Regions from separate parts of the Homo sapiens genome. Here region 2 is linked to region 1. The links come from fine-mapping of genetic effects on gene expression. A gene starts in region 1. The other region holds a variant in brackets. All regions are shown on one strand. Distances are from middle to middle. Region 1 holds the start of IDE (insulin degrading enzyme). Region 2 overlaps KIF11 (kinesin family member 11).

What was found.
Region 2: its variant is fine-mapped to the expression of IDE in transverse colon (GTEx, PIP 0.99).

What each region holds. Positions count from the first base shown.
Region 1 is chr10:92,570,541-92,586,474 of GRCh38, forward strand. It overlaps IDE (insulin degrading enzyme), which reads right to left and starts at 3,553. Exons shown (of 25, transcript NM_004969.4): 1 at 3,382-3,553. The coding sequence starts at 3,479. RefSeq lists a silencer at 2,953-3,402 and enhancers at 3,903-3,962, 3,973-4,212.
Region 2 is chr10:92,640,245-92,656,195 of GRCh38, forward strand. It overlaps KIF11 (kinesin family member 11), which reads left to right. Exons shown (of 22, transcript NM_004523.4): 18 at 5,119-5,398; 19 at 7,968-8,190; 20 at 9,591-9,742; 21 at 10,157-10,273; 22 at 13,421-15,151. The coding sequence ends at 13,552. Among named protein-coding and RNA genes, the nearest start is that of HHEX, 42 kb to the right of the region's middle. The variant G/T (reference allele first, on the strand shown) is at 8,856.

The sequences.
Region 1 (15,934 bases):
GGCTAAAAGGTAGCCTGATCCTCTGGCTACATGTTTAGGAGATATAAAATACCAACAGAAAAACAGAAAGGAAACCAGTGTTTATGAAACATATACTGGGCCTGGCACAGTGGCTCATGCCTGTAACCCCAGCACTTTGGGAGGCAGGGGGATTGCTTCAGCCCAGGAGTTTGAGACCACCCTGGGCAACATGACAAAACCCCATCTCTACCAAAAATACAAAAATTAGTTGTGGGGTGGTGGCATGAGCCTGCAGTCCCAGCTACTCAGGAGGCTGAGGTGGGAGGATCACTTGAACCCAAGAGATGAAGGCTGCAGTGAGCTGAGATCACATCACTGCACTCCAGCCTGGGCGACAGAGTGAAACCCTGTCTCGAACTTTAAAAAAAAGAAAACATACTGAACTTTTTCTCCCCTACCCTGGGGAGACTGTCCCCAACCCTAACTTCTTTTTTTTTAAGACACAGTCTCGCTCAGTCACCCAGGCTGGAGTGCAGTGGCACGATCTCAGCTCACTGCACCTCCGCCTCCTGGGTTCAAGCGATTCTCCTGCCTCAGCCTCCCGGGTTCAAGCGATTCTCCTGCCTCAGCCTCATGAGTAGCTGGGATTACAAGCGCCCACCACCACGCCCGGCTAATTTTTTTGTATTTTTAGTAGAGATGGGGTTTCACCATGTTGCCCAGGCTGGTCTTGAACTCCTGACCTCAAGTGATCCCCCCGACCTCGCCCTGTCAAAGTGTTGGGATTACAGGCATGAGCCACCCCACCTGGCCTCAACCCTAACTTTCAAGACAGGCAGAATGTGTGGATTAGGTTAAAGAAACTTCAGGGGTACCCTGTTCTTTTACACTATTAAAAGGCATTTTTCTGATTGACAGTAGTTTAAAAGCTTGAATGTTGATAGTCCCAACTGACATACCACTGTTTCCTAAGCCTATGGAACAGGGAAATGCAAAGTAGGGCTGCCTGCAAAGTGAGATGACTGATGCCCAGGTGGCTCAAGTTGTTGCCAGGGAATGGGCTATTATCTCCAGGTGCCCCAGTAGTTCAGATAATTCCACACAGTCCCAAGTTATAAAATACAGCTGAACACAGAACAAGGAGGTTACTCTGTAAATGGATTGATCTTACATAAATGCTTTAAGACCATCTCTGTCTCAAGAGGTTAGACCAGAAAATGAATGCCCAAATACCAGCAGAGGCAGTACTTGTGTTTGCAAATACATAACAGTTAAGAGCTCAGGCTCCGATGCCAGATAGACATGGGTTAAATCCCAGCTCTTCCAGCAAATAGCTGTGTGGCTATCTCTGTTAAGACATTCTTCCGACTATGTACAGTAGGGCTGATTGCATTCCTTAAGATGAGAATATGTGGTAGCTTCAGATGTTAGTGCTTTCCTTCCTAAAACTATGCCCTAATCCCTTTGGTTGGACCTGTATTTTCCTCAAAAGCCTCACTCACTGATTTTAGGGTAGAGCTTTCTAGCTGGCTCATCTCATTCATTATGCTTTGAATCTCTCAAATTTCCATCTTTGAGAAAAACATATCTTAAAACTCTGGATGGTCGACCGGACTTTATAACTACAGAGAAAATGTAATTTTAACTAGAACATACAAACCACTTAGTTATACAAAACTTAAAATTGGTGCTTTCTTTAAAAATCACAAATGCTATATGCTGGAGACAGTATGGAGACAGCTAAGCCTAGCCTATCAGTAATGAATTTAGAACAAAAGCAGACTGACACAAAAGAGGACAAAAGGAGGCATCCTGCCTGTGCTTACCACCTGATTCTCTAAGTTCAGGGGTCTTTTGCACATTATAGGAGATTTTGTGATGTAGTGGAAAACAGAGGAGAACAAGTTCCATAGAGTCTTCATTTGTATTAGCTTATCTTAGTGCCCCACTGCTACCATCCTAATACAGGCAGTAAAGACTAAGTCCCAACAGGTTTCTCTGCCTTAGGACTCTCTCCACTTCCTGACATCCTGCACACAGCCACCAAACTACTTTCCTAAACCCCCAGTTCCATCAGATAACTTTCCAGCTCAAAAACTTTAATGGCTCCCTACCTACTACGCATTGGGAAAATCCCAACTAAAATTCAAGACCCAGGCCAGCATTACCCTACTGTTATAATACAGGACTTGTGTCCTTCTAATTACCCCAAGGAAATTCTATAAAGCTTCAACCAGACTAATCGGCTCACTGCTCCCCCAACACAAACTGCCCGCATATCTAGGCTGGATTACGCCCACGCCAGCCCTCACTCCAACCTTTCTGCCATTCCTTCCAAAGCCAGCCTACCCCCCCATCTCTGGCCCCACACACTACCCATACTACCCATCTTCTGACCCTCATCAACACACCCTTGTAGCTATCTCAATTCCCGTGGCATCCCAATCCGCTCCAATCAAGTCAAAGTTCCTTGGAAGGCAGACACATACTTTACATAGAGGGTCCAGCACAGTGCCCTGCACTTAGTAGGTGCTGGCTATTACTGATTAAAACCAGCAGGGGTTCAAATAACGTTTCTAGGGAGGGCAAGATAATACTGCCTATCTTCTTCCATTCGTAGTAAAAAGTATTCAGCGTTCACTACAAGCCTGAAAACGCCTAGCGTACGCAGATCAACGGTGCAGTGGAGAGGGCACGCCGCCGGATGGCAAAAAACCTGTGTCCTAATCCTGGTTTTGCCACAATCTCGGCAGTTGCTGGGAAATCAAGCCATCTCTCGGAGCTCCGGTTGTCTCCGACGTAAAACAAGGGAGCTGCTGTAGAGGATCCCGAGGTATCTTTTGGCTCCTAAATGTCCCCCGATAGGAAACCCCACACTCGTCTTCCAAGGCGGGAGGCAGGCAAACTTTTTTCCCAGCGCGGGCATTCCACACGGTCCTGGAAACTCAGTGCCCGGAGAAAAGGGCAGGGCTGAGGGCAAGGTGAGAAGCGGTCCCCCCGAAGTCGCCGGATTCCTTTACCCCACGGCTCGAGTCCGCCTCAGGTTCCCGGCCCCCTCACAGGCGGACTCCGGGAGAGTGACGCGGCGCGGCTCCCAGGTGCAGGCCGGGTGACTCTGTCCGCCCCTGCGCCCCCCGCACTAGTGGCACACGCCCCGTGGCCCCGGGTAGCGGCCCCGGCCCCTCACCAGCCCAAGGGACGTCCCCGACTCTGGACCAGGCCTCTGGCTCCCGCCTGGCGAGCCGCTCTTCCGGGCCCTGGGGCGGCCTCAGCGCGGCAGTACGGGCCCCAGGCCGGCGGGACGGGCGGCGTGAGGGGCAGCGGTGGCGGCTTTAAGTGCTGAATCACCACTTTGCAACCCGAGCGCCAAACCGCTGTGACCCACGGGGCCCGAGGGCCCGGGCGCTCCATTCCGCTTACCCACACAGGCGCTCCGGAGGCGGCAGGCGGGCGCCGAGGACTGAGCGGAAGGTGCTGGGCAGTGCGGGGTGCAGAAGCCACGCTAGCCGGTACCGCATTAGCCAGCGCAGTCGCCGGGATCACCGCAAACGCTTCCTGCTTGCGCTTCGAGCCGGCCCTGCGCACTGCGCATGCTCTAGCCGCGGCGCCGCGCGGTCTCCCGGGAGCTGCGGAGAGGTAGCTGCTCCGGGTTTTGCCTGGAGCCGGATGGGGCCAGGACGCAGGCGAGGACGGTGAAGACCGCGGACAGCCGAGGCCTGAGCAGGCGGACTGGAGGGACAGGGGTTTGGCCGGGGCGCTTTAGGAGCCAGCACCCAGACTTTCCCAGGCGGGGAGGGTCCCAGCTAGATCCCACCGGCCGCACTTGTGAGGGTGGCGACGTGTGTCTGACTGTGAGGGGGCGAGGGGCCGCTCATAAATCCAGTGAGGGCACACGGGGCTATGTTTTCTGAGGCACCCCCACTGACTAGCGTGCCGGACCCTGCAGGTGTTGGAACAAGGTTCGTGGTCGCGGCGGCCTCACGTAAAATGAATCCGCGGCCGGCGCGCGGCCCGCGGGCTCCCTCTAGAGCGCGGTGGGGACGTGGACCGCGAAGGCACAGATGCGCTGGAGACAAGGCTCGAGTGCGGCGTGGGGGAAATTCAGACGCAGGGGTCAGCGATAGAGAGGCCAGGACCCAGGGGGACGTTTCCATCCTTGGGGAAGTTAGCAGCTCTCTTAAGAGGAAGGTGCGGATGGGACGGGCGCCGCAGCAAAACAAGGCTTCAAATCCAGAGTAGAAACTACTACTCTTGTTAGTACTCCGTACTAGGAATACTACTAATGTCAGTCGGCTTCAGTGGTTACTTTTTAAACAAAGAATTTTCTCCCCAGTGGCTTTATGGGGCTTTGCACCCACGAACAACTTAATAGTTGTTATGAATCTAACTTTCCATAATACCTTATGGGAGTCTTTAAGGAAGAATGCTATTAGGGATGGTGACTTGCCAGCTTAAGTACTTTTAGGTTTCTGATTGACAGACGATCAAGACTGCAGCCAAAAACGGTGTCCTTAGTCCAAGTATTGCTTTAAATGGGAATTCAGTAGGAGGGTTCCTTAATCAAGTTGATGCTTTATCGAAGACGTACCCACGATCTTTTTAACAGTGCGGTTTCACCTAAAGGCAAACCTTTGGATGAAAACAGGTAAAAATTATGGCAAGCCTCCTAGTGGTGTTTGCAAGTGCATGGTTTTAAGAACCTTTAAATTACCAGTCCCAATGCAGAGTAGTCAATCACCTTGAAGCAGCTCCTCTGAGAGTGTTAATGCAGCCTTTCTGAATACATTTATGCTCCATTAATGGAATCTATAAATGGGCTGGGGTAGATTCAGACTTGGAGGGCTTGAAACATATACAATTTGGGGGACCTCTTTGAGACATAAAATACAAATTATAAATACAAAATTAGCAATCAGAAGATTACTATAGAGAGAAAATACATCACAACAAATACTCGAGACTTGGAGATTAGTACCCTTTTTTTTCCTGAGATCTCTTTAGGCTACTTATTAGAAATGCTTACATAAAAATGCTTCCAGATGGCCGGGCGTGGTGGCTCATGCCTGTAATCCCAGCACTTTGGGAGGCCAAGCCGGGCGGATAACGAGATCAGGAGTTCGAGACCAGCCTGACCAAAATGGTGAAACCCCGTGTCTACTAAAAATACAAAAATTAGCCAGGCGTGGTGGCATGCGTCTGTAATCCCAGCTACTGAGGAGGCTGAGGCAGGAGAATCACTTGAACCCTGGAGGCGGAGGTTGCAGTGAGCCAAGATCACGCCACTGCACTCCAGCCTGGGCAACAAAATGAGACTCTATGTCTCAAAAAAAAAAAAAATGCTTCCAGACAACAACTGGCTTTCCCTCTACAACTCCCAGTTTGGAGCCTGTGCAAGTGAGCAGCCCTGAAGTTTAAACTTCATTAGCTTCATGATAAATTTCCCTCTGGTTGGAGTAGATGTCCTGGATAAGAAAGATTAATATTAATATAGTCTCATAACTATCATCTCAATAAAGAGGAGGTGGATGGAAAGAAAAGTAACAATTTTGAGAGTCTACTCTGTGTCTGGCATTGTACATGGCTCCTTCATTAGTCATCATGACCACCCTCTGTAATGGATATTTCCTCACCTACCAGAGATGAGGAAGCTGTGGCAGAGAGAGGTTGAGTAACTTGCCAACAATTGGACAAAAAGAGTGGAGTTGTAATTTGAACCCAGGACTGTCTTATTCCAAAACCTGTGATTTGCTCATCTCATTTATGACTTGACAAATATTTGTTGAATGCCTTACAGATACCAGGTATTATAAAGGTGCTGGGAATACAGCAGTGGACAAAAAAGACAAAAGTTTCTGTCTTGATGGAGATTACCTTCTAGCTGTGTGGGAAAAACAGATAATAATCAAGTGAGTAAGTGATATGAAGGAACAGGTGGTCAGGAAAGGCCTCTTTGAGGAAGTGACATTCAGGCAGACCCCAGAATGATGAGAAAAAGTAGGAAATGTGAAGGTCTAGGGTGTAATCTTTCCCACTCTCACTCAAACAAGTATAAGGTGTAAACCACCTAGACAACTTTTTTTTCTTTTCTTTCTTTTTTTTTTTTTGATGGAGTCTCGCTCTGTCACCAGGCTGGAGTGCAGTGGCGCGATCTCGGCTCACTGCAACCTCCACCTCCCGGATTCATGTGATTCTCCTGCCTCAGCCTCCAGAGTAGCTGGGACTACTGGCGCACGCCACCATGCCCAGCTAATTTTTGTATTTTTAGTAGAGACGGGATTTCACCATGCTGGCCAGGATGGTCTCGATCTCTTGACCTCATGATCCCCCCTACCTCAGCTTCCCAAAGCGCTGGGATTATAGGCGTGAGCCTCCATGCCCGGCCTACAACTTTTTTAGAAGCAGAAAAAGTAATGTGCTGAAGTCATTCTTTGCCTTAGATAGGAAAACTAGACACATATTCAAATATAAGTATTCTGATATACTGGAAGCCAAATATTAGTGTTTATCTGTGCTGTAAGTTCCTTCCATTAGCCCAGATAGAATAGAGTTCACCATAGAGCTGAGTCAGGAGTTCCTAATGATTGAAAGAAAAAAACTTAAAAAGGAAGCCCAGTGGTGACAGATTGGCGTTTATTTCCTAATTGGTAATGTTCAGAAAAATAATATCTTTTGTCCCCCCAGATGTTTTAGCAGAGGAAAGAAAAGGAATTTTTTTTTTTTTTTTGAGGCGAAGTTTTGCTCTTGTCACCCAGGCTGGAGTGCAATGGCATGATCTTGGCTCAGCGCAACCTCCGCCTCCCAGGTTCAAGCAAATCTCCTGCCTCAGCCTCCCAAGTAGCTGGGATTACAGGCATGCGCCACCACACCCAGCTAATTTTTGTGTTTTTAGTAGAGACGGGTTTCTCCATGTTGATCAGGCTGGTCTCCAACTCCCAACCTCAGGTGACCCGCCTGTCTTGGCCTCCCAAAGTGCTGGGATTACAGGCGTGAGCCACCGCGCCCGGGCAAGAATTTTTTTTTTTTTTTTTTTTAAATAGGCCGGGTGCAGTGGCTCACACCTGTAATCCCAGCTCTTTGGGAGGATGAGGCAGGTGAATCACTTGAGGTGAGGAGTTTGAGACCAGCCTGGCTAACATGGTGAAACCCTGTCTCTACAGAAAAATTAAAAAATTAGCTGGGCATGATGGTGTGCACCTGTGTCCCAGCTACTTGGGAGGCTGAGGCACAAGAATCGCTTGAACCTGGGAGGCAGAGGTTGCAGTGAGCTGAGATCGTGCCACTGCACTCCGGCCTAGGTTACAGAGTGAGACCCTGTCTCGAAAATAAAACTTAAAATGTCTTTTGAGACTGGGCACAGTGACTCACGCCTGTAATCCCAGCACTTTGGGAGGCCAAAGTGGGCGGATCACCTGAGGTTGGGAGTTCGAGACCAGCCTGACCAACAGGGAGAAAACCCGTCTCTACTAAAAATACAAAATTAACTGGACATGGTGGCGCATGCCTGTAATCCCAGCACTCGGAAGGCTGAGGCGGGAGAATTGCTTGAACCCGGGAGGCGGAGGTTGCGGTGAGCCGAGATGAAGCCATTGCACTCCAGCCTGGACAACGAGTGAAACTCCATCTCAAAAAAAAAAAATGTCTTTTGAACTAATCTAGCCTATTGTTATATATTCAAAATCAAAATCTGAATTCTGAATCCACCAACTCAAAATTTTGTACAAATAGCTAAAGAGAAAGCATACCTAGGTAGTTAATAACAAAGGAAAATTTAAAGTTAGGGCCAGACGCGGTGGCTTATGCCTGTAATCCCAACAATTTGGGAGGCAGAGGTGAGAGGGTGCTTGAGCTCAGGAGTTCAAGACCAGCTTTGGCTACATAGTCAGGCCTTGTCTATATAAAAAAATAAAAACTAAATTAGGCAGCAGGTGCAGTAGCTCATGCCTGTAATGCTAGCACTTTGGGAGGCCAAAGCAGGAGGATCACTTGAGCTTAGGAGTTCGAGACCAGCCTGGGCAACATAGACCTCATCTCTATTTAAAATAAAGATAAAATCAAAACAAAACAAAAAATTAGCCGGGCATGGTGGTGCATGCCTGCGGTCCCAACTACTCTGGATGTTGAGGTGTGAGGATGGCTTGAGCCCAGGAGGTGGAAGTTGCAGTGAGCCAAAATCATGCCACTGCACTCCAGCCTGGGCAAGACTGCCAGACCCTGTCTCAAACAACAATTCTTACAAGACCTTAAACATTTTTCATAAACATCATTTTTATTTGTATTATTTTTTAAGGCTCTTGAGCAATGCCAATTCTTTAATGAACAGCTGAGGAACATTGGTTTTAGCCATCAATTTTCTTTTTCTCAAAAGAAAAATGTCTCAAAAGACATTTTTTTTTTAATTGAGACAGAGTCTCACTCTGTCACCCAGGCTGGAGTGCAATGGTGTGGTCTTGGCTCACTGCAACCTCTACCTCCCAGGTTCAAGCGATTCTCCTGCCTCAGCCTCCTGAGTAGCTAGGATTATAGGCACCTGCCACCACGCTCAGCTAATTTTTGTATTTTTAGTAGAGACAGGGTTTCACCATGTTGGCCAGGCTGGTCTCAAACTCCTGACTTCAGGTGATCCACCCACCGCAGCCTCCCGAAGTGCTGGGGTTACAGGCATGAGCCACTGCACCCGGCCTTTTTTATCTTTTTAAAACGGGGTCTCCCTCTGTGGCCCAGGCTGGAGTGCAGTGGAGTGATCTCAGCTCACTGCAACCTCTGCCTCCCGGGTTCAAGCGATTCTCCTGCCTCAGCCTCCCAAGTAGCTAGGACTACAGGCATGAGCCACCACGCCCTGCTGATTTTTTTGTATTTTTAGTTGAGACTGGGTTTCACCATGTTGGCCAAGCTGGTCTCGAACCCCTGACCTCAGGTGATCTGCCCACCTCGGCCTCCCAAAGTGCTGGGATTACAGGCATGAAAACCACCGCACCCAGCCTTATTTTATGTGTCTTAATTTTCTCATTTATCTCTCTCACTAACATGTAAATACCACAAGCATAGAAACCTGGTTGCTCTTTTCTCTGGTGTATCCTCAACATTGAAAGCAAGCCCTGGGCCCATAATATTTGTTGAATGCATAAATCAAGAGTTGTCTTAACTGTGTGTGGAAAATACGAATTATAGATCCTGCCCATAAAGTAACTCAAATTTACCTTTAAGGACTAGCAAAGATGAGTCATTTAGGAAAACTCCTAACAAACAAATTTATAATTAATCACTTATCTATAAAACATTTTTAAAAATTCATGTTGCTTTTAGGTATTTTATTACCATAGTATTGTACTTAAAACTAATATACATTTTAAAACTTTTTATTGGGAGGGGCACGGTGGCTCACGCCTGTAATCCCAGCACTTGGGGAGGCTGAGGCGGATGGCTCACCTAAGGTCAGGAGTTCGAGACCAGCCTGGCCAATGTGATGAAACCCTGACTCTACTAAAAATACAAAAAATTAGCCGGGTACAGTGGCAGGCGTTTGTAGTCCCAGCTACCCAGGAGGCTGAGGCAGGAGAATTGCTTGAACCCAGGAGGCAGAGGTTGCAGTGAGCCAAGATCATGCCATTGCACTCCAGCCTGGGCAACAAGAGCAAAACTCTGTCTCATTAAAAAAAAGAAAAAAAGAAAAAAAGCTGGGCATGGTGGCTCACGCCTGTAATCCCAGCACTTTGGGAGGCCGAGGTAGGTGGATCACCTGAGGTCGAGAGTTGGAGACCAGCCTGACCAACATGGAGAAGCCCCGTCTCTATTAACACAAAATTAGCCAGGTGTGGTGGTGCATGCCTGTAATCCCAGCTACTCAGGAGGCTGAGGCAGGAGAATTGCTTAAACCTGGGAGGTGGAGAGTGCAGTGAGCTGAGATTGCGCCATTGCACTCCAGCCTGAGCAACAAGAGCGAAACTCTGTCTCAAAAAGAAAAAAAAAAAGAAAAAAGAGAAAACTTTGTATTATGGAACAAGTAGTCAAACATAAACAAAATAAAAGAAAATAGTATAACTATTCCAGGCAAAATATGATTTTAGAATTCTATAGCCCAATAATGTCAACATAGATTTTGTGATTTAGGATAAAAACATTTTGAAAAATACGATTTTAGAATTCCACAGCCAAACAATGTCCATAAATAAATACCCCAGGCATCCATTCATTATTCAGCTTCCATAATTACCAGTTCATGGCCAATATTGTTCTATCTTTTCCTCCAACTCCCTCAACCTCCACTAAATTATTCTGAACCAAATACCGGGCATCATATTATTAATATTTCATCTCAGTATTTCAGTATATGTCTCAAAGGACTTAAAGAAAATCCACAGGCACTAACATACTTAAAACATTAAGATAATTATTTAATATAATCAAATATGTAGTCAGTGTTCCCACTTTCCTGAGTGTTCCCACTTTCCTGATTGCCTCAAATGTTTCTTTTTCACAATGGGTTTGTTCAAATCAGGATCCAAACAAGAACAAAACACTTCATTTAATTAATATGTTTCCTTTTTTTATTTTGTTTTGTATCTTTTGAAGATGATCTTTTTTGAAGAGTTTATTGAAGTATTGCAAACAGAAAAGTAAACAAGTGATAAGTGTACAGCTCAGTGAATTTTCAAAAACTGAACACATCCCTGTAAACACACCCAGAAGCTCTGCCTTATTCTCCGTTTCAGTCACTGTCACCCCAAGGGTAAACACTAACCTGACTTCTAACACAATAAATTAGTTTTGCCTGGATTACAGTTTAATATAAATGCACTCATACAGTATATACTCTTTTGGGTCTGGCTTTGTTTAACTATCTGGTGAGATTTATCCATATTTTTTAGAATAATTTTTGTTTGTTCACTTTCTTTTCTTTTCTTTCTTTTCTTTTTTTTTTTTTTTTTTTTTTTGAGACAGTCTCACTCTGTTGCCCAGGCTGGAGTGCAGTGGCGTGATTTCAACTCACTGCAACCTCTGCCTTTCAGGTTTAAGTGATTCTCCTGCCTCAGCCTCCCAAGTAGCTTGGATTACAGGGGCCCACCACCATGCCCTGCTAATTTTTTTTTTTTTTTTTAGTAGAGACCGGGTTTCACAATGTTGGTCAGGCTGGTCTTGAACTCCTGACCTCAGATGATCCTCCTGCCTCAGCCTCCCAAAGTTCTGGGATTACAGACATGAGCCACCGCGCCGGCCTGTTTGTTTACTTTTTTTTTTGAGATGAAGTCTCACTCTGTCAGCAGGCTGGAGTGCAGTGGTGCAATCTTGGCTCACTGCAACCTCCGATTCCCTGGTTTAAGCAATTCTGTCTCAACCTCCCAAGTAGCTGGGATTACAGGCATGCGCCACAATGCCCAGCTAATTTTTTGTATTTTTAGTAGAGACGGGGTTTTCACTGTGTTAGCCAGGATGGTCTCAATCTCCTGACCTCAGGTGATCCACCTGCCTTGGCCTCCCAAAGTGCTGGGATTATAGGCGTGAGCCACCGTGCCTGGCCCATAGCTTGTCAATTCTAAATCTTTTATTTATTTATTTATTTATTTATTTATTTATTTTGTTTGTTTGTTTGAGACGGAGTCCTGCTCTGTCACCCAGGCTAGAGTGCAGTGGCAGAATGTCGGCTCACTGCAACCTCTGCCTCCCGTGTTCAAGAGATTCTCCTGCCTCAGCCTCCTGAGTAGCTGGGATTACAAGTGCATGCCACTATGCCTGGCTAATTTTTGTATTTTTAGTAGAGATGGGGTTTCACCATATTGGTCAGGCTGGTCTCAATCTCCTGACCACACAATCCATCCGGCTCGGCCTCCCAAAGTGCTGGGATTACAGGCATGACCCACCACGCCTGGCCAATTTTTGTATTTTTTTAGTAGAGATGGGGTTTCGCCATGTTGGTCAAGCTGGTCTTAAACTCCTGACAGGTGATCCATCTGCCTTGGCCTGCCAAAGTGCTAGGATTACAGGCGTGAGCCACTGCACCTGGCCTCTCCCTCCTCTTTTTTATTTTGCAATTTATTTGTCAAAGGAGTTGAGTCATTTATCCTATAGTGTTCCCAACATTCTAAATTTTGCTGACTGTATTCTTTTTATTTTTATTTTTTTGAGATGGAGTTTCGCTCTTGCTGCCCAGGAGCAACAAGAGGAGTGCAATGGAGTGACCTCGGCTCACTATAACCTCCGCCTCCTGGGTTCAAGTGATTCTCCTGCCTCAGCCTCCTGAGTAGATGGGATTACAGGCGTGCACCACCAAGCTCGGCTAATTTTTTTGTATTTTTTAGTAGAGACGGGGTTTCACCACGTTGCCCAGGCTGGTCTTGAACTCCTGACCTCAAGCGATCCACCCGCCTCAGTCTCCCAAAGTGCTGGGATTCCAGGCGTGAGCCAGCGTGCCCAGCCTGCTGACTGTATTCTTACAATGTGACTTAACATGTTTGTTTCTTATATTTCCTGTAAATGGTAGTTACATCCACCGATTTGATCAGATTCAGCAAATATGCATTTGAGAAGTGTTTACTAAGCACTGTGCTTGCTGCTAGGTGGGATACAAAAATGACTAAGACATCACTCCTAATCTATTGTTTATTATGAATATGAAAGGTTAAGGCCAGGCGTGGTGGCTCACACCTGTAATCCCAGCACTTTGGGAGGCTGAGGCAGCTGGATCACTTGAGGCCAGGAGTTGGAGACCAGACTGGCCAACAATGCAAAATCCCGTCTCTACTAAAAATACAAAAAGTAGCGGCTGGGCGCGGTGGCTCACACCTGTAATCCCAGCACTTTGGGAAGCTGAGACAGGCGGATCACCTGAGATCAGGAGTTCGAGACCAGCCTGACCAACATGGAGAAACCCCCGTCTCTACTAAAAATACAAAATTAGCCGGGTGTGGTGGTGCAGGCCTGTAATCCTAGCTACTCGGAAGGCTGAGGCAGGAGAATCACTTAAACCTGGGAGGTGGAGGTTGCAGTGAGCTGAGATTGCACCCTTGCACTCCAGCCTGGGCAACAAGAGCAAAACTCTGTCTCAAAAAAAAAAAAAAAAAAAACTAAAAATACAAAAAGCAGCCGGGTTTGGTGGTGCACACCTGTAGTCCTAGCTACTTGGGACACTGAGGCAGAAGACTCCCTTGAATCCGGGAGGCAAAGGCTGCAGTGAGCCGAGATCATGCCACTACACCCCAGCCTGGGTGACAGAGTGAGACCCTGTCTGCCTGTTTTTTTGTTTGTTTGTTTTGTTTTTGTTTTTTCTGAGACTGAGTTTTGCTCTTGTTGCCCAGGCTGGAGTGCAATGCCATGATCTCGGCTCACGGCAACTTCTGCCTCCCAGATTCAAGCAGTTCTCCCGCCTCAGCCTTCCAAGTAACTGAGATTACAGGCATGTGCCACCATGCCCAGTTAATTTTGTATTTTTAGTAGAGACAGAGTTTCTCCATGTTGGTCAGGCTGGTCTTGAACTCCCGACCTCAGGCGATCTGCCAGCCTCGGCCTCCCAAAGTGCTGGGATTACAACTGTGAGCCACCATGCCTGGCAGGGCAGGACTTTTTAAATTCATTTTTGTGACTATCACAGGGTATGCACCTAAGCTCAGTAAACATTTGTTGAGTAATTAAAACCAGCTAAAGGTGTTTTTGTTTTTTGTTTTTTTTGAGACGGAGTCTTGCTCTGTCACCCAGGCTGGAGTGTAGTGGTGCAATCTCAGCTCACTACAAGCTCCGCCTCCCGGGTTCATGCCATTCTCCTGCCTCAGCCTCCCAAGTAGCTGGGACTACAGGCGCCCGCCACCACACCCAGCTAATTTTTTTTGTACTTTTAGTAGAGATGGGGTTTCACCGTGTTAGCCAGGATGGTCTCGATCTCCTGACCTCGTGATCCACCTGCCTCGGCCTCCCAAAGTGCTGGGATTACAGGCCCGAGCCACCGCTCCTGGCCCCCATTTTTTTTTTCAAGATAAGATCTTGCTCTGTCACCCAGGCTGGAGTGCACTGGTATGATAATGACTCACTGCAGCCTCACCTCCCAGGCTCAAGTGATCCTCCCAGCTCAGCCTCCCGAGTAGTTGGGACCACAGGTGAGTGCCACCATGGCTGAGACTATTTTCATTTTTTGTAGAGATGAGGTCTGGAGAGTCTTGGAAGAATTCTTACGTTAAATAAAAATTCAGGATGCAAAATTCTATATCCAGGTTGAGCATAGTGGCTTACCCCTGTAATCCCAGCACTTAAGGAGGTAGAGGCAGAATGATAGTTTGAGTCCACGATAGTTTGAGTCCAGGAGTTCAAGACCTGCCTGGGCAACATAGTGAGACTCTGTTCTCCATAAAAAGGGGGGGAAAGACCAAAAAAACCCTATATATTCAATTATGATCTCAATTACTGAAAATATACAAATAGACAACTGGAAAGAAATACATCAAAATATTAATGGTAGTAATTGCTGGGTGGTAGAAATCTGCTATCTCTATACAGGAGTTCCAGAAAGAAACAACAGACGTGGCAAGTGAAATAGTCAATGAATAATTCAAAAACATTTCCCAGACTGAAGGTAACAACTTGCCAGACTGTGGCTCAGCCCAATTAATGAAAGTAGATGCACACATTGGCTGGGCATGGTGGCTCACACCTGTAATCCCAGCACTTTGGGAGGCCAAGGCGGGCGGACCATGAGGTCAGGAGATCGAGACCATCCTGGTTAACATGGTGAAACCCCGTCTTTACTAAAAACACAAAAAATTAGCCGGGCGTGGTGGCGGGCGCCTGTAGTCTCAGCTACTCCGGAGGCTGAGGCAGGAGAATAGCGTGAACCCAGGAGGCGGAGCTTTCAGTGAGCCAAGATTGCGCCACTGCACCCAGCCTGGGCGACAGTGTGAGACTCCGTGTCAAAAAAAAAAAAAAGAAAGAAAGAAAGTAGATGCACACCAAGGCACATCATTGCAAGATTTCTTTTTTTTGTTTTTTGTTTTTTTTTGAGACAGCATCTCACTCTGTTGCCCCAGCTAGAGTACAGTGGCACGATCTCAGCTCACTGCAACCTCCACCTCCCGGGTTCAAGCGATTCTCCTGCCTCAGCCTCCCAAGTAGCTGGGACTACAGGCACGCGCCACCATGCCCGGCTAATTTTTGTATTTATAGTAGAGATGGGGTTTCACCATATTGGCCAGGCTGGTCTCGAACTCCTGACCTCGTGATCCACCCACCTCAGCCTCCCAAAGTGCTGGGATTACAGGCGTGAGCCACCATGCCCAGCTGCAAGATTTCTTTCTTTTTTTCTTTTCTTTTTTTTTTTTTTTTTTTTTTTTTTTTTGAGACGGAGTCTTGCTCTGTCACCCAGGCTGGAGTGCAGTGGTGCAATCTCGGCTCACTGTAACCTCCACCTCCCAGGTTCAAGCGATTGTCATGCCTCAGCCTCCAAGTAGCTTGGATTACAGACGTGCATCACCACGCCCAGCTAATTTTTATATTTTTAGTAGAGACACGGTTTCACCATGTTGGCCAGGCTGGTCTCAAACTCCCAACTTCAGGTGATCCACCTGCCTCGGGCTCCCAAAGTGCTGGGATTACAGACATGAGCCGCCACACCCCGCCTCATTGCAAAATTTCTAGTCACTAGAATGAAATGCTCAGCTATGAACAGACATAATGACCTGAATACAGATAATTGATTTAACCAGAAATTGTAATATTGGGTATTAGAGAAGGAAATGCAGAGAGGATGGTAAAGTTTGAGAACTAAACCTCACCTACCATAAGATGTCAATAAATAATGTCTAAAATGGATTAATCAAAAGATAACGGTATAGGTCTGGCACAGGGGTGGCTCATGCCTATAATCCTAGCACTTTGGAAGGCTGAGGCGGAGGATTGCTTGAGTCCAGCAGCTTGAGACCAGCCTGGGTAACAAAGCAATACCCTGTGTCTATGAACAACTTTAAAAATTACTGGGTGTGGTGGTGTGTGCCTGTAG
Region 2 (15,951 bases), 70 kb after region 1:
AGGCTGGATGCCTGTTATTGCAAATAATTTCATTGGACACTGTTTACATGTTGTCTTTGGCTGCCTTTGCACTGCAGTGGCAAAGTTGAGTCATTGCATCCAGGTCATTGAACAATAGCCTAAAATATTTGCTATCTGGCTTTTCAAGAAAAAGTTTGCTGATTCCTGTATTAGGGTTTTGTTTTTTGTTTTTGTTTTTGTTTTTGCGACGGAGTCTTGCTCTGTCACCCAGGCTGGAGTGCAGTGGAGTGATCTCAGCTCACTGCAAGCTCCGCCTTCCAGGCTCACGCCATTCTCCTGCCTCAGCCTCCCGAGTAGCTGGGACTACAGATGCCCGCCACCATGCTTGGCTAATTTTTTGTATTTTTAGTAGAGAGGGGTTTCACCATGTTAGCCAGGATGGTCTCGATCTCCTGACCTCGTGATCCGCCCGCCTCGGCCTCCCAAAGTGCTGGGATTGCAGGCGTGAGCCACCACGCCCGGCTCTGTTTTGTTTTTTCAGACAAAAACAAACAGCCTGCTCTGTAGCCCAGGCTGAAGTACAGTGGCGCGAGTGCAGTGGTGTGATCTTGGCTCACTGCAACCTCTGCCTCCTGAGTTCAAGTGATTCTCCTGCCTCAGCCTCCCGAGTAGCTGGGATTACAGGCACATACCACCATGCCTGGCTAATTTTTTGTATTTTTAGTAGAGATGGGGTTTCGCCACGTTGGCCAGGCTGATCTTGAACTCCTGGTCTCAACTGATCCTCCTACCTCGGCCTCCCAAAGTGCTGGGATTGCAGGTGTGAGTCACTGCTCCCAGCCTGTATTAGAGTTTAATGTTGCTTTGTAGCCTCATTGCTTGCCAGTTCCGCATACTTAACATACACTACAGTCAGACCTATGTTTTCTTTTAGGAATTTTATAACTTTATGGTTTAACATTTATATTCATGATCCATTTAAAAATTTTTATAAAACATAGGAGATTTGTCAAGTTTCAGTTTTTTGCCTATTGAGTATTCTATACTCATGAGGAGAAAGATACTATATTTACCCTATTTTTCCCCATTTAATTCTGAAATTAAACTTCCTAAAGTTTCAAGCTTTCTTTGGTGGGAAGTAGTCTTTAAGGGTGGGTCTGCTGGACAGAAATTGTTTTTCTTTGTCTAAGAATGTCTTGATTTCCCCTTCATTCCTGAAAGGTATTTTCACTGGCTGTGGAATTCAGGGTTGACAATTATTTTTTTCCAGCATTTGAAATATTTCCATTTTCTTCTGGCCTCTATGAAATGAGAAATCCACTGCCATTCAAGTAATTGTTCCCTTATAGGCAGTCTCCCTATAGCTGCTTTCAAAACTTTTTTGTCTTTAGAAACTTGATTATATTTTGTCTACTTATATTTCGTTGAGTTTATTCTATTTGGGTTTTGTTTAGCTTCTTGAATCTGTAGGCTTATGCCTTTCACCAAAACTTGGGAAATTTTCATCTATTAATTCTTTGAATATTTTTCAGCCCTATACTCTTTTTCATCTGCCCCTATGACTTTGATGACACAAATGTTAGATCTTTTATTTTGGTCCCTCAGGAGATATGTAGAATATATTTCTTATAGATACATATATTCTCTTTGTTGTTCACATTGGGGAAATTCTATTGATCTGTCTTCATATTCACTGAGTCTCCTTCTGTCATCTCTAACCTACTGTTAAACCCATTCAATGAGGTGTTTTTTCAGTTATTGCTTTTTTATTTTTAGTTTTATAATTTTCATTTGCTTTTTTTATACCTTGTTTCTTAGCTAGGATTTTTTTCTTTTCCAGGAGTATTTTAATTTCTTTTTGGAGCATTTTTTGATGGCTGCTTTAAAATCCTTGCCAGACAATTCCAACATCTGAGTTTTCTTGTTGTTGCCATCTATTGATTGTCTTTTCTCATTCAACTTGTGATTTTTGTGGTTCTTGATATATGATAAGTGATTTCCTATTGTACCTTGAAGATTTTGGGTATTATGTTAGGAGATTCAGGATCCTATTTAAGTATTTTTTAGCTGGCATTCACCCTGTTTAGGCTTAGCATACAGATCCAGGCTCACTTTTATGGGCTGTGGTTCCACTGACAATTTAGTTTTTAGAGCCCTTGCAGTGTTATTCTGATAATGCTTTGTTTGTGTGCTACCCACATGAGAAAAATTTGTATTCTGCTTTTGTTGCATGAAGTGTTCTGTATGTGTCACTTTGATCAAGTTGATTGATAGTGCTATTCAGGTCATCCACGGCCTTACTGAGTTTCTGCCTATTTGTTCTATCAGTGACTTAGAGAGGAGTATTGAAATCTCTAATTGTAGATTTATCTATTTTTTTTATTAGTTCTATCAGTTTTTGCCTCGTGTATCTGAAACTCTGTTGTTGGGTGCATATACATTTAGGATTATTATATCTCCTTGGAGAATTGACCTCTTTATCATTATGTAATATCCACTTTTATTTCTGATAAGCTCTTGTTCTGAAGTCTGTTTTGTCTGAAATGAATACAGGTTTTCTAGCTTTCCTTTGATTGCTATTTGTATGATGTATCCTTCTCCATCTCTTTACTTTTGGTCTAAGTCTTTATATTTAAAGTGGGTTTCTTATAGACAGCATGTAGTTGGGTCTTGCTTTTTCATCAAATTTATAATCTATGATGTTTTATTTTTATTTATTTATTTGAGACAGAGTCTTGCTCTGTGGCCCAGGCCGGAGTACAGTGGTGCAATCTTGGCTCACTGCAACCTCTGCCTCCCGGGTTCAAGTGATTCTCCTGCCTCAGCCTCCTGAGTAGCTGGGGCTACAGGCACACACCACCATGCCCAGCTAATTTTTAAATTTTTACTAGAGATGGGGTTTCACCATGTTGGCCAGGCTGGTTTCGAACTCCTGACCTCAAGTGATTTACCTGCCCTGGCCTCCCAAAGTGCTGGGATTATAGGTGTGAGGCACTGCACCCAGCTGCCTTTCCTCATTTAAATTGAGCACTTTTTATGTTTTTATCTCTTCCATTGACTTATTTATACTTTTTAAATATTCCCTTTTTAGTAGTATGTCTAGGATTTAAAGTATACATTTTAAGATAATTTGAATTTGTATACATTTTAAGATAATTTGAATCCATTATCAAATAATTTGCTGTTTCATGTGTAGTGAAAGGACATTATAATAGTATATTCCTGTTTCCTCTTTCCCGTTTGTCATTATTTTCATATGTTTTACTTAGGTGTTTATATGTGCAATAAACACCTAATACATTGTTACTTGAATTGCTTTATCTATTTTCTTTTTTAATGTATCTACTAGATTTTTTTTTTTTTTTTTTTGAGAGGGAGTCTTGGTCTGTCACCCAGGCTGGAGTGCAGTGGTGCAATCTTGGCTCACTGCAACCTCTGCCTCCCAGGTTCAAGCAATTCTCCTGCCTCAGCCTCCCAAGTAGCTGGGATTACAGGCACCTACCACCATGCCCGGCTAATTTTTGTATTTTTAGTAGAGACGGGGGTTTCACCATATTGGCCAGGCTAGTCTCAAACTCCTGACCTTGTGATTGCCCGCCTCAGAAATTTTTAATTGCATATGTGGCTTCTATTATACTTCTGTTGAACAGTGCTGTTCTGGAACTCTAGCTATCATTTATATATCCCTACCTAACTTCTGTCATTTGTTTTTCAACCCTGTTTTTGATCCTGTTAAGTATAGCATGTTCCATTGTGAACTCTTCCTATATGCTGAATCAAAAAAGTATGTCCTACTTTTTATTCCTAGTATCTAGACTGATGGATTTCTAGGCCATTCCATAGCCGTGGAGGAAATACTAGAGTAGGATTGAAGTAGGAAGGGAAGTATGATATACTTTCTTAAGGCCCATGCAAATCATTTTTCCTGCTTTCCTGACATTTATTGTCTACACCAGAGTTTCCCAGTATGGTCTAGGGACTTTGTATTCATCACCCAGGAATCTAGGTGATGTTTATGTACACACTGCACATAACTGCGTTTGGCATTTATTGTCATGGCTTATAGTACTTTTAACTCAATCTCGTCTTCCCATTAAGTTGTGAGATTTTGTTTTGTTTTTTTTATTTGAGACAGAGTCTTGCTCTGTCGCCCAGGCTGGAGTACAATGACACAATCTCAGCTCACTGCAACCTCTGCCTCCTAGGGTCAACCAATTCTCCTGCCTCACTCTCTCCCAAGTAGCTGAGATTACAGGCACCCACCACCACGCCCGGCTAATTTATTGTATTTTTAATAGAGACAGGGCTTCACCATATTGGCCGGACTGGTCTCTAACTCCTGACCTCAGGTGATCCACCTGCCTCGGCCTCCCAAAGTGCTGGGATTAGAGGTGTGAGCCACTATGCCTTGCCCTTTTTTCAGTCATTGTGACTTTCACGTGTAGGTTTGGTTTTTAACATCTTTGCTGACTCACTTGGTTTACCCACGTGGTGTACCATCTAGTGGTAATAGAGAGTCACTTCATTCCACAAGGTTTAAATCTTGTAAGATAACTTGGAATGCTATTATAGGGCAACTTACCGAGATGGAAATTATCAATGAATTTTAAATGTATGTCTAACCAACATTAATATTATATCAAGTTTATGTTACATTGTTCTATATGTATAATTTGTCACACCCCAATATAATTTTAATTATTAGAAAGCTTTATAGCTAATTTAAACATAACATTTGTAATGTTCATGATTTGTTTTACATACTAGGCAAGGGAAACTGCTTAATAACAGAATAAATGACTGATTGTCCAATTTAGGGACTAGACAAGAGGCTGTAGTAGATGCCCTGAAGTAACATTGCCTAGTAAGAGGAATAAAACAAGTAGACAGATTTTGAAAGCATCATAACTGGAGGAGGGTTGTGAAAGGTTTCATGAGCAAAGATGATCCTTTCAAAGGTCATTTAATGGCAATGCTGTGAAAAGACAGTGGCCAAGGCATCCATTCTCAATGCAGAAGATTTACTAAGATCACGGGCCCTGGAGCCAGACTGTCCACGTTCAGATCTGCCACTTAAGAGCTGAGTGATCTTGGGAAGTTATATATCCTTTGAGTCTTAATTCCCCATTTCAACAGTGTCATTCTCTTTTCCTATAGGAAATCTAAGGATATAGTCAACAAAATGACTTTTCACAGTCAAAAATTTTGTGCTGATTCTGATGGCTTCTCACAGGAACTCAGAAATTTTAACCAAGAAGGTACAAAATTGGTTGAAGAATCTGTGAAACACTCTGATAAACTCAATGGCAACCTGGAAAAAATATCTCAAGAGACTGAACAGAGATGTGAATCTCTGAACACAAGAACAGTTTATTTTTCTGAACAGTGGGTATCTTCCTTAAATGAAAGGGAACAGGAACTTCACAACTTATTGGAGGTAATAACTTTGTAAGTGGAACTTACTTTGGGGAGAATAATAATCAGAAAGTTAAATATTCTTGGCTAAGAATAGATTTCAAAACAAATGATATTTTAAGCTATAATGACTTAAACTTTTAAGTATAATATTTGGTATGCTTACAGATGATCTCGTTTTGTGCTTTGTTATATGTCTTCTCAATCTTGGAATTAATTTAACATTTGTACAGTTTCTTTCCTGTATTTATCCTTGGTTTCTGACTTAGTAGTTTCTTCAAAGAAGGGCACCCTGTCTTTTGATATGTAATACCTTCCACTTATATATGCTTTTTTTTTTTTTTTTTTTGAGATGGAGTCTCACTCTGTTGCCCAGGCTGGAGTGCAATGGCACGATCTCAGCTCACTGCAACCTCCGCCTCCCAAGTTCAAGCGATTCTCCTGCCTCAGCCTCTCGAGTAGTTGGGATTATAGGCACCTGCCACCACACCCGGCTAATTTTTTTGTATTTTTAGTAGAGATGGGGTTTCACTATATTGGCCAGGCTGGTGTCAAACTCCTGACCTCATGATCCACCCGCCTCGGCCTCCCAAAGTGCTGGGATTACAGGCATGAGCCACTGCGCCCGGCCTATCTTTGCTTTTTACTTTTCTCCAAGTACATTCAAACCTATTATTATTTTAAGTATTTAGGTTATTGTTCTGGTAACTAAAGGATACTTGATAGGTTTATGGATTTGCTTGAACTTAACGCTTGCATGAGCCCTTTGTAACTTGGTTTTTTCTTTCTTTGCATTAATAGGATTTTACTAACATTCTCAGGAAGTAGGTACAAAGAATTAAAATTTTTAATCTATATAAGCTGTTTTCACTAAAAGGAACTAGAGTTTGTATACAAATAGCTAATTTCAGATTTGTGATAGGAAATGTATAATATATGAGCCTAGAGATCTTGTCATACCAGAGAGTAAGGAAGCTGTTAAAGATTTCTGAGGTTGTCAAAAGGTCTTAGTAGCCAACCTCCCCATCTTCAAAGGTGGCATAATTTGAGCATCAAAAAGAATAATGGCCATAATGGATTAAAACATATCAAATATATTAAAACTTACGAACTCATAAAAATTTCATAGGTCTCCTTTGGATCATGCTAGGGAAGCAACACATTGTCCTGAAAATGGGTAAAGAAGAAGAAAAAATTTAGCATCCATCTGTCTTTCCTAAAAGAACCATATCTTGGTTTAGCAGGGTAATGAAGAAAAGTGTTTCATTAGACTCTAAGCTAATAAAATGGAGAAGAAATGATAGAATTAATATATCACCAGTATGCAACTCTTAATAAAATAACCCCTGTGGATGTTAATGATGGCTTAAACCATTTGATCAAAAGCTGTTGGGGAACTTTATAATTAATAGGCTAACCATACCTGAACTCACTGATAAATCTTAACATGAGAGACACAGCAAAGCATTTTGTGCTTGCAGTACTACCTATGAAATACTCTTGCTAAAAAATTAAACCTGAATTAAATCAAGCCTTTAGGTCTAACCAGTTTGTAGAAAATAAAGCATAGAAATGCAGTTGACCAAATCCAGAATTTGAGATGTTCAATGGGGTAAAGACCTCATGTCTTCAGCAACAAGTTTTTTTTTTCAAGGGAAAAAATATGAGAAACAATAACCTGTATATCAAAAGAGACTTAAGACTAGAGGTCCTTAAGTCTTAGTTTGCCTGAGACAGTCCTTGTTGATATTGTTGTATTAGAATGATTATTAAGAATGGGCCCTTTCACTCCAAAAGGTGTCCCAATTTGGATGATAAATTATATAGTCACCGACTTAAGACCTATGAACCAAATCTAGTGGTGAATTCTGGTTCAAACAAAGCAATTGTGACACACATTTGAGACGACTGGTGAAGTTTGAACATGGACTAGACATTTGATAGGAAGGAATCAGTGTTAACCTTTTTAGATGTGATAGTGGTCTTAAAGTGCTCTTACCTCTTAGAGATACATGCTGAAGTAAATGGATGAAATGATACAGGATTTGTTTCAAAATAATCCTGGGTTTATGGAGGAGTTGAGTGGCCAGTCCTGTTGGTAAATGTCTGTACTCCACTTGTTGGTAAATGTTGAAGCTGGGTAATGAATACAAGGGAGTTAATTATACTGTTCTCTCTACTTTTGTATGTGTTTTTAAATCTTTTATTACTGAAGGCCAGGTGTGGTGGCTCATGCCTGTAATCTTTGGAGGTCAAGGTGGGCAGATTGCTTGAGCCCAGGAGTTTGAGACCAGCTTGGGCAACATGGTGAAATGCCATCTCTTCAAAAAATACAAAAATTAGCCAGGCATGGTGGTACATGCCTGTAGTCCCAGCTACCTGGGAGGCTGAGGTGGGAGGATGGCTTGAGCCTGGGAGGTCAAGGCTGTAGTGAGCACTACTCATGCCACTGCACTCCAGCCTGGGCAACAGAGTGAGACTTGTCTCCAAAAAAAAAAAAAATTATGGAAAAGGTAAGGGAAAATATGATGTTGAATAAAACACTGGCAACTTTAATTTTAGTAATAAATATTTATTTGCATCATTTACAGGTTGTAAGCCAATGTTGTGAGGCTTCAAGTTCAGACATCACTGAGAAATCAGATGGACGTAAGGCAGCTCATGAGAAACAGCATAACATTTTTCTTGATCAGATGACTATTGATGAAGATAAATTGATAGCACAAAATCTAGAACTTAATGAAACCATAAAAATTGGTTTGACTAAGCTTAATTGCTTTCTGGAACAGGATCTGAAACTGGATATCCCAACAGGTACTTTAAAAGAGAAATAGAATTGTTAAATTTTTTGAAGTCGAATTCAACTCTATGTAGTGTCAGATGTTCAGAAAAATTAGGTCCTGCCATTGCCTGACAGAAATTTAACATCTCACTGTAATCAACTCAAAATGGGAAAACTGGAACCTTAAAATAGTTTTAATCAAGTGTCATGATACAGGTGGTATCACAATTCAGTATAATTTCACATACTTTCAGGGAGTTGACTTTGTTAATAGGGGATTTTTTAAAACAAATACAAACCTAGCACTGTTTGTAAAAGGACATTTTAATACCACAAATATGGGAGAGATGTAACTGACTAAATCTAGTTTAATGCAAAGTTTACCACATTGTGCATTTTGTTCTGTGTCCCTCTCATTTTGTCATAGACTATTGCCATTTAGGAATCCCTGTTTTAAGAGATCAGGGATCACCATGGACCATTAGCATTTAGGAATCAACATTTTGAGAGATCACATATGGCAAAGATCATTATAGGCTGTAATGATTCAGGGAGGTCTTCATGGAAGAGATGTAACAAGCTGTTTTACACAGCATGAATAATTGGGTTCTTCATTGGATTATGGTAATGGTTGCACACCCTGTAAACTCACTAAAATCCACTGAATTGTACACATAAAATGAGTGTTTTATGGTAT[G/T]TAAATTATATCACAAAACTCTTTTTTTTTTTTAATTTAAAAAGCAATTGTTAAAAGGGGATGGTGCTACATAGAATGTTGGTTTATTTATTCCCCAAGAGACCTGTAGGATTTACTGTCTACTTTTCAATGAAGTTAGGAATGTAAATGTTGAGTGAAAAGGCAAGTACTTTTGTAAATCATGAGAGCATGAGCTTATTACAGAGAAATATAACTGGGGGCCTGATGCGGTGGCTCACACCTATAATCCCAGCACTTCGGGAGGCAAGGCAGGAGGATCGTTTGAGCCCAGGGGTTCAAGACCAGCCTGGGCAACATAGTATATGTATATAACTAGTTAATATTTAACCACCACACCACATTTATAGTGAAATGATTACTCCTATCAAAGTAATCATGTTGGGAAATCTACTCATTCCAATAATGCTGCCATTTTTTTCAGAACACTATAACTCCTTTTAGAGCTTATAACACATCTTTTATATATCCTCAGAGATGGTAAACTTCATGTTTTAGAGAGTAGGATGAATCTTGAAAACAGTAAAGTCTGTCATCAAATTAGAAAGTATTGTTAGTTGCAAACAATGTCTGACAGGTAGCAAGACTGATCCTCATATATGGCAATTATATTTTTATATTTTTAGAAGACAAGATTAATTAGGAAGTTTTAGGTTTTTTTAAAAATATTTACATCTCATACTTTAATTTTTACCTCTTATCTAATGTCCGTTAAAGGTACGACACCACAGAGGAAAAGTTATTTATACCCATCAACACTGGTAAGAACTGAACCACGTGAACATCTCCTTGATCAGCTGAAAAGGAAACAGCCTGAGCTGTTAATGATGCTAAACTGTTCAGAAAACAACAAAGAAGAGACAATTCCGGTAAATTTAAAGGATCATATTTTATAATAGAACTCTTTTATGAACTCTTGATGTGGCTGACTTCATGTGAAGAATTTTACTGTTTACCCCTCAATCTTACCCCGCCTCTCATTAATGATAGGCCTAGCCCTTAGGCTTGTTTCTTTTAATCTTACTAGTTTTTAAATTATGCTAGTAGATAATAATAGCCAATACTTAATATTGTGCTTAGTAACATTGTTATATAGGAACCTCTACTCTCTATAAAAATATATTAGGAATTATTTTCATTAATTTGTAGACTTTCTAATAATTTTGTTGAGGTTTAACTTTTATATTATACCATGGGCATTGTGTTATACTCAAAGCTGCTGTTACTCTTGTGATGACTTTTAAGCCCTTGGACTTAGTCACTCATCCAGTTTCTTCTTTTAGGATGTGGATGTAGAAGAGGCAGTTCTGGGGCAGTATACTGAAGAACCTCTAAGTCAAGAGCCATCTGTAGATGCTGGTGTGGATTGTTCATCAATTGGCGGGGTTCCATTTTTCCAGGTATGTCATATCAGATAACCCTTCCACATCTGATGTAAGTCATTCATTTACTATTCATTATAAAGGTATTGTTCGTGGTGAGCAGAACAACAAAAACCTTTCAATTATTCCTTAGGATGGCTTGTTAACGCTTATGATTTGAATTATTTACAAAAATCTGATATTGATAAGGGGTTTTCTGTAGAATAAATGAAGGCAGAATTTGACTTAATCTACATCCTTAGCTGATAATCTTTAGCTATTGTATTTATTCCTTTTCTGCTTGCTATATACTCAGACACTGAGAGCAGTCATTTCTCTTCCTTCTACCTTTGACATGTAAGTCTTGGAACCTATCTCTGCCCATAATCAGACTTTGAAGGCAAAGTGATTGAAAAGATTGAGAGACTGGAGGCCTCTTAGGTTATATTAGTGATTTCTCCTGCCTGAGGCTCTTCTCTTGTAAACTGTTGCCCCATGTTTCCTGAGCACCTTGCCTGCTCTAATCCAGTGTAATTAAATCCTGTGACCTCTCCTACCCACTCTTCTTTTTTTTTTGAGACTGAGTCACCCAGGCTGAAGTGGAGTGGCACGATCTTGGCTCACTTAACCTCCGCCTCCTGAGTTCAAGTGATTCTCCTGACTCAGCCTCCCGGGTAGCTAGGATTACAGGCATGCACCACCACACCTGGCTAATTTTTTTGTATTTTTAGTAGAGACAGGGTTTCACTATGTGGGCCAGGCTGGTCTCAAACTCCTGACCTCAAGTTATCTACCCTCCTCGGCCTCCCAAAGTGCTGGGATTACAGGCGTGAGCCACTGTGCCCAGCCCTCTACCCACTTTTTTTTTTCTTTTGAGACGGAGCTTCGCTCTTGTTTCCCAGGCTGGAGTGCAATGGCACGATCTTGGCTCACCGCAACTTCCACCTCCTGGGTTCAAGTGATTCTCCTGCCTCAGCCTCCCGAGTAGCCAGGATTACAGGCATGTGCCACCATGCCTGGCTAATTTTGTTTTTTTTTTTTTTTTTTTTTTTTTTTTTTTTTTTTTTTTTAGTAGAGGGGGTTTCTCTGTGTTGGTCAGGCTGGTCTCGAACTCCCAACTTCAGGTGATCTGCCTGCCTCGGCCTCCCGTAGTGCTGGGATTACAGGTGTGAGCCACCGGCCCGGCCCCTCCTACCCACTTTTTAACACTGTTGAGAACATAGTTGGTTTATGATTCATCTCAGCATTGATGACTGAGTACACAATCAATGTCACCAGTCCCTTAATGTTCTCTATGGGTAAGTAGGAGGATTCCAATGAAATACAACTTCCAAGTGAGGCTCTATAAAGTGCTGGTATCTTTTCCTCTAATTTGAGGGTACAAGCCTAGACAGAGTGTGTGAAGGAAAAATTTCCTTACGTAGGACATTGGTATCTACATTTACAGTTGAAGTTCTACTTCTGAGATGCATATGCTTGTACCTTTTTTTTTTTTTTTTTTTTTTAAATATATATAGAGAGAGGGTCTTGCTATGTTGGCCAGACTGGTCTTGAACTCTTGGCCTCAAGCAGCCCTCCTACCTCAGCCTCCCAAAATGCTAGGATTACAGGCATGAACCACTGCGCCTGGCTGCTTGTACCTTTTTTGTGTGTATGTCTTGTTTTGTTTTTTTGTTTTTGAGACGGAGTTTTGCTCTTGTTGCCCAGGCCAGAGTGCAATTGCCTGATCTTGGCTCACCACAATCTCCGCCTCCCGGGTTCTAGCGATTCTCTTGCCTCATCCTCCCGAGTAGCTGGGATTACAGGCATGCACCACCACACCTGGCTAATATTGTATTTTTAGTAGAGAAGGGGTTTCTCCATGTTGGTCAGGCTAATCTTGAACTCCCGACCTCAGGTGATCCGCCCGCCTCGGCCTCCCAAAGTGCTGGGATTACAAGCGTGAGCCACCGCGCTCGGCCTGTAACTGTTTTTTAATAGATCTACAGCTCCTTCCCTTAAGGTCTAAAGATTCTCCATCCCTGCTTTCAACAGTTAACAAAGTTCCAACTCAGATTCTCATAAATTCCTCCCTGTCTTCCTCTGGGCAATTTTATTCCCAAATTCTTGCCACCTTTTGCTTTATTCCTTACTATTAGAGAACTATAAATATGTTTCTTTCAGTTTTCATCCTTTTCTTCTATCTTATAAAGTTAGGAAAGGGGGAAGGATAAGAGAACCTGGTGACTACTTAATCCCTGGTCAGAAATCGTTTTATTATTATTATCTGTGGCATTTTGAATTAGGCTTAGTGATTCAGCTATGGCAAGGAAGTCCCTACAGTACCAGAAAGGGTTTGGGATGGGGTTTTAGACCTTCAGCTGAAGTCCAGAAATGATCTTTTCCCTAGTAGCAGTGTGATGTGGGGATTTTCTCTGCGTTTAAAACTTTAAAAGTTGGTTTACAATTTGTCTCAGCATTGATGACTGAGTGTACAATGAATGTCACCAGTCCATTAATGTTCTGTATGGGTAAGTAGGATTCCAATGAAATAGAACTTCCAAATGAGGAATATGAAATAGGTTTTACAAATAAAATAAAATACAATTTTAAAAAACAAGTAAAAGTGTTTTTAAGGTGGCCCATATACCAGTTTCTCTGCTTAAAACAGAATTGGCTTTTCTGCATGACAGCAAATCTTTGTTTCCTTAGAGCAGGGTTTCTTGACAGCAGTGCTATTGGCATTTTAAACTGGATAATTCTTTGTTGTGATGGGCTTTCCTGTGGACTGTACTATGTTGGTACACAAGAAAAACAGTGTACTATGTGAATACTCACTCAAAGCCAGTAGCACTCCCTGATTGTAACACCAAAAAAGTCTCTCAGCATTGCCAAATGTCCCCTGTGGCAGCAGAATCACTCCCTGATGAGAACCACTACCCTGGAGTAAAATCTATAACTATGTCTTAGAAAATAACACAGAAAATTAATATTTCTTTCACTCTACTCCTTCCATTAGTGATCAAATAAAGAAGGCATTTGGCGCTACTTGCCAAATTGTTGGCTCAAACTTGTGCTGAACCTTTTTTGGTTTTCTACACTTAAGTTTTTTTGCCTATAACCCAGAGAACTTTGAAAATAGAGTGTAGTTAATGTGTATCTAATGTTACTTTGTATTGACTTAATTTTCCCGCCTTAAATCCACAGCATAAAAAATCACATGGAAAAGACAAAGAAAACAGAGGCATTAACACACTGGAGAGGTCTAAAGTGGAAGAAACTACAGAGCACTTGGTTACAAAGAGCAGATTACCTCTGCGAGCCCAGATCAACCTTTAATTCACTTGGGGGTTGGCAATTTTATTTTTAAAGAAAACTTAAAAATAAAACCTGAAACCCCAGAACTTGAGCCTTGTGTATAGATTTTAAAAGAATATATATATCAGCCGGGCGCGGTGGCTCATGCCTGTAATCCCAGCACTTTGGGAGGCTGAGGCGGGTGGATTGCTTGAGCCCAGGAGTTTGAGACCAGCCTGGCCAACGTGGCAAAACCTCGTCTCTGTTAAAAATTAGCCGGGCGTGGTGGCACACTCCTGTAATCCCAGCTACTGGGGAGGCTGAGGCACGAGAATCACTTGAACCCAGGAAGCGGGGTTGCAGTGAGCCAAAGGTACACCACTACACTCCAGCCTGGGCAACAGAGCAAGACTCGGTCTCAAAAACAAAATTTAAAAAAGATATAAGGCAGTACTGTAAATTCAGTTGAATTTTGATATCTACCCATTTTTCTGTCATCCCTATAGTTCACTTTGTATTAAATTGGGTTTCATTTGGGATTTGCAATGTAAATACGTATTTCTAGTTTTCATATAAAGTAGTTCTTTTATAACAAATGAAAAGTATTTTTCTTGTATATTATTAAGTAATGAATATATAAGAACTGTACTCTTCTCAGCTTGAGCTTACATAGGTAAATATCACCAACATCTGTCCTTAGAAAGGACCATCTCATGTTTTTTTTCTTGCTATGACTTGTGTATTTTCTTGCATCCTCCCTAGACTTCCCTATTTCGCTTTCTCCTCGGCTCACTTTCTCCCTTTTTATTTTTCACCAAACCATTTGTAGAGCTACAAAAGGTATCCTTTCTTATTTTCAGTAGTCAGAATTTTATCTAGAAATCTTTTAACACCTTTTTAGTGGTTATTTCTAAAATCACTGTCAACAATAAATCTAACCCTAGTTGTATCCCTCCTTTCAGTATTTTTCACTTGTTGCCCCAAATGTGAAAGCATTTCATTCCTTTAAGAGGCCTAACTCATTCACCCTGACAGAGTTCACAAAAAGCCCACTTAAGAGTATACATTGCTATTATGGGAGACCACCCAGACATCTGACTAATGGCTCTGTGCCCACACTCCAAGACCTGTGCCTTTTAGAGAAGCTCACAATGATTTAAGGACTGTTTGAAACTTCCAATTATGTCTATAATTTATATTCTTTTGTTTACATGATGAAACTTTTTGTTGTTGCTTGTTTGTATATAATACAATGTGTACATGTATCTTTTTCTCGATTCAAATCTTAACCCTTAGGACTCTGGTATTTTTGATCTGGCAACCATATTTCTGGAAGTTGAGATGTTTCAGCTTGAAGAACCAAAACAGAAGGAATATGTACAAAGAATAAATTTTCTGCTCACGATGAGTTTAGTGTGTAAAGTTTAGAGACATCTGACTTTGATAGCTAAATTAAACCAAACCCTATTGAAGAATTGAATATATGCTACTTCAAGAAACTAAATTGATCTCGTAGAATTATCTTAATAAAATAATGGCTATAATTTCTCTGCAAAATCAGATGTCAGCATAAGCGATGGATAATACCTAATAAACTGCCCTCAGTAAATCCATGGTTAATAAATGTGGTTTCTACATTAACCTGCTTGCTCCATAATTTCTTATCTGGCAATGGGTATATTTAGAGGGTTAGGCAAGCTGCATTCACATTCCCAAAATAAACTATGCAGGTACCACCAAAGAAGAAGGAGCCTAGTAAACTTGCAGGCTTTTAGTTGCACTCCAAGGGGCTATCCTAGGTGCAAGGTTAGTGAGAAGTAGGCCCTCACACAGCCTGAAGTCCAGCTTTAAGTCATCTCATTCCATGACTGTTTAAGTTATCTGAGAATGCTGATGCAACTAATTTCACTGCCTCACAGAAGCAAAAATAAATCTCCAGATAATTTTAACATCCAGAACCATAAATTAGCTCTACCAATTTTCATACACAATGTCGGGCCCTCAGAATGTAACCAAGAGTAGCATCAGCAAAAATGGCCAAGTAGGTAGCTTCAAGGACCTTTTCCTCCACAGAAACATTGAAAAATCAAGCAAAAACATTCAGAAACAACTTTGTCAGAACCCAGGAAAATAGTTTACAGCACCAAGCATTTGCTGAATCAAGAAAAAGGCAACCTAGAAAGAAGGAAAGCTTGGCAGTGTTTTACTTGCCCTTTCCCCATTCTCAGCTCTGCAACAGTCTTGAAGACACAGAACACATTCTCAGCGTGGAGTCCTGGTCTTGGGTTTCTAGGGAGAAGAGAGATTTTTTTTTTTTTTTTTGGAGACAGTCTCACCCTGCCACCCAGGCCAGAGTGCATTGGCATGATCTCGGCTCACTGCAACCTCCCGGGTTCAAGCAATTTGTGCCTCAGCCTCCCAAGTAGCTGGGACCACAGGCA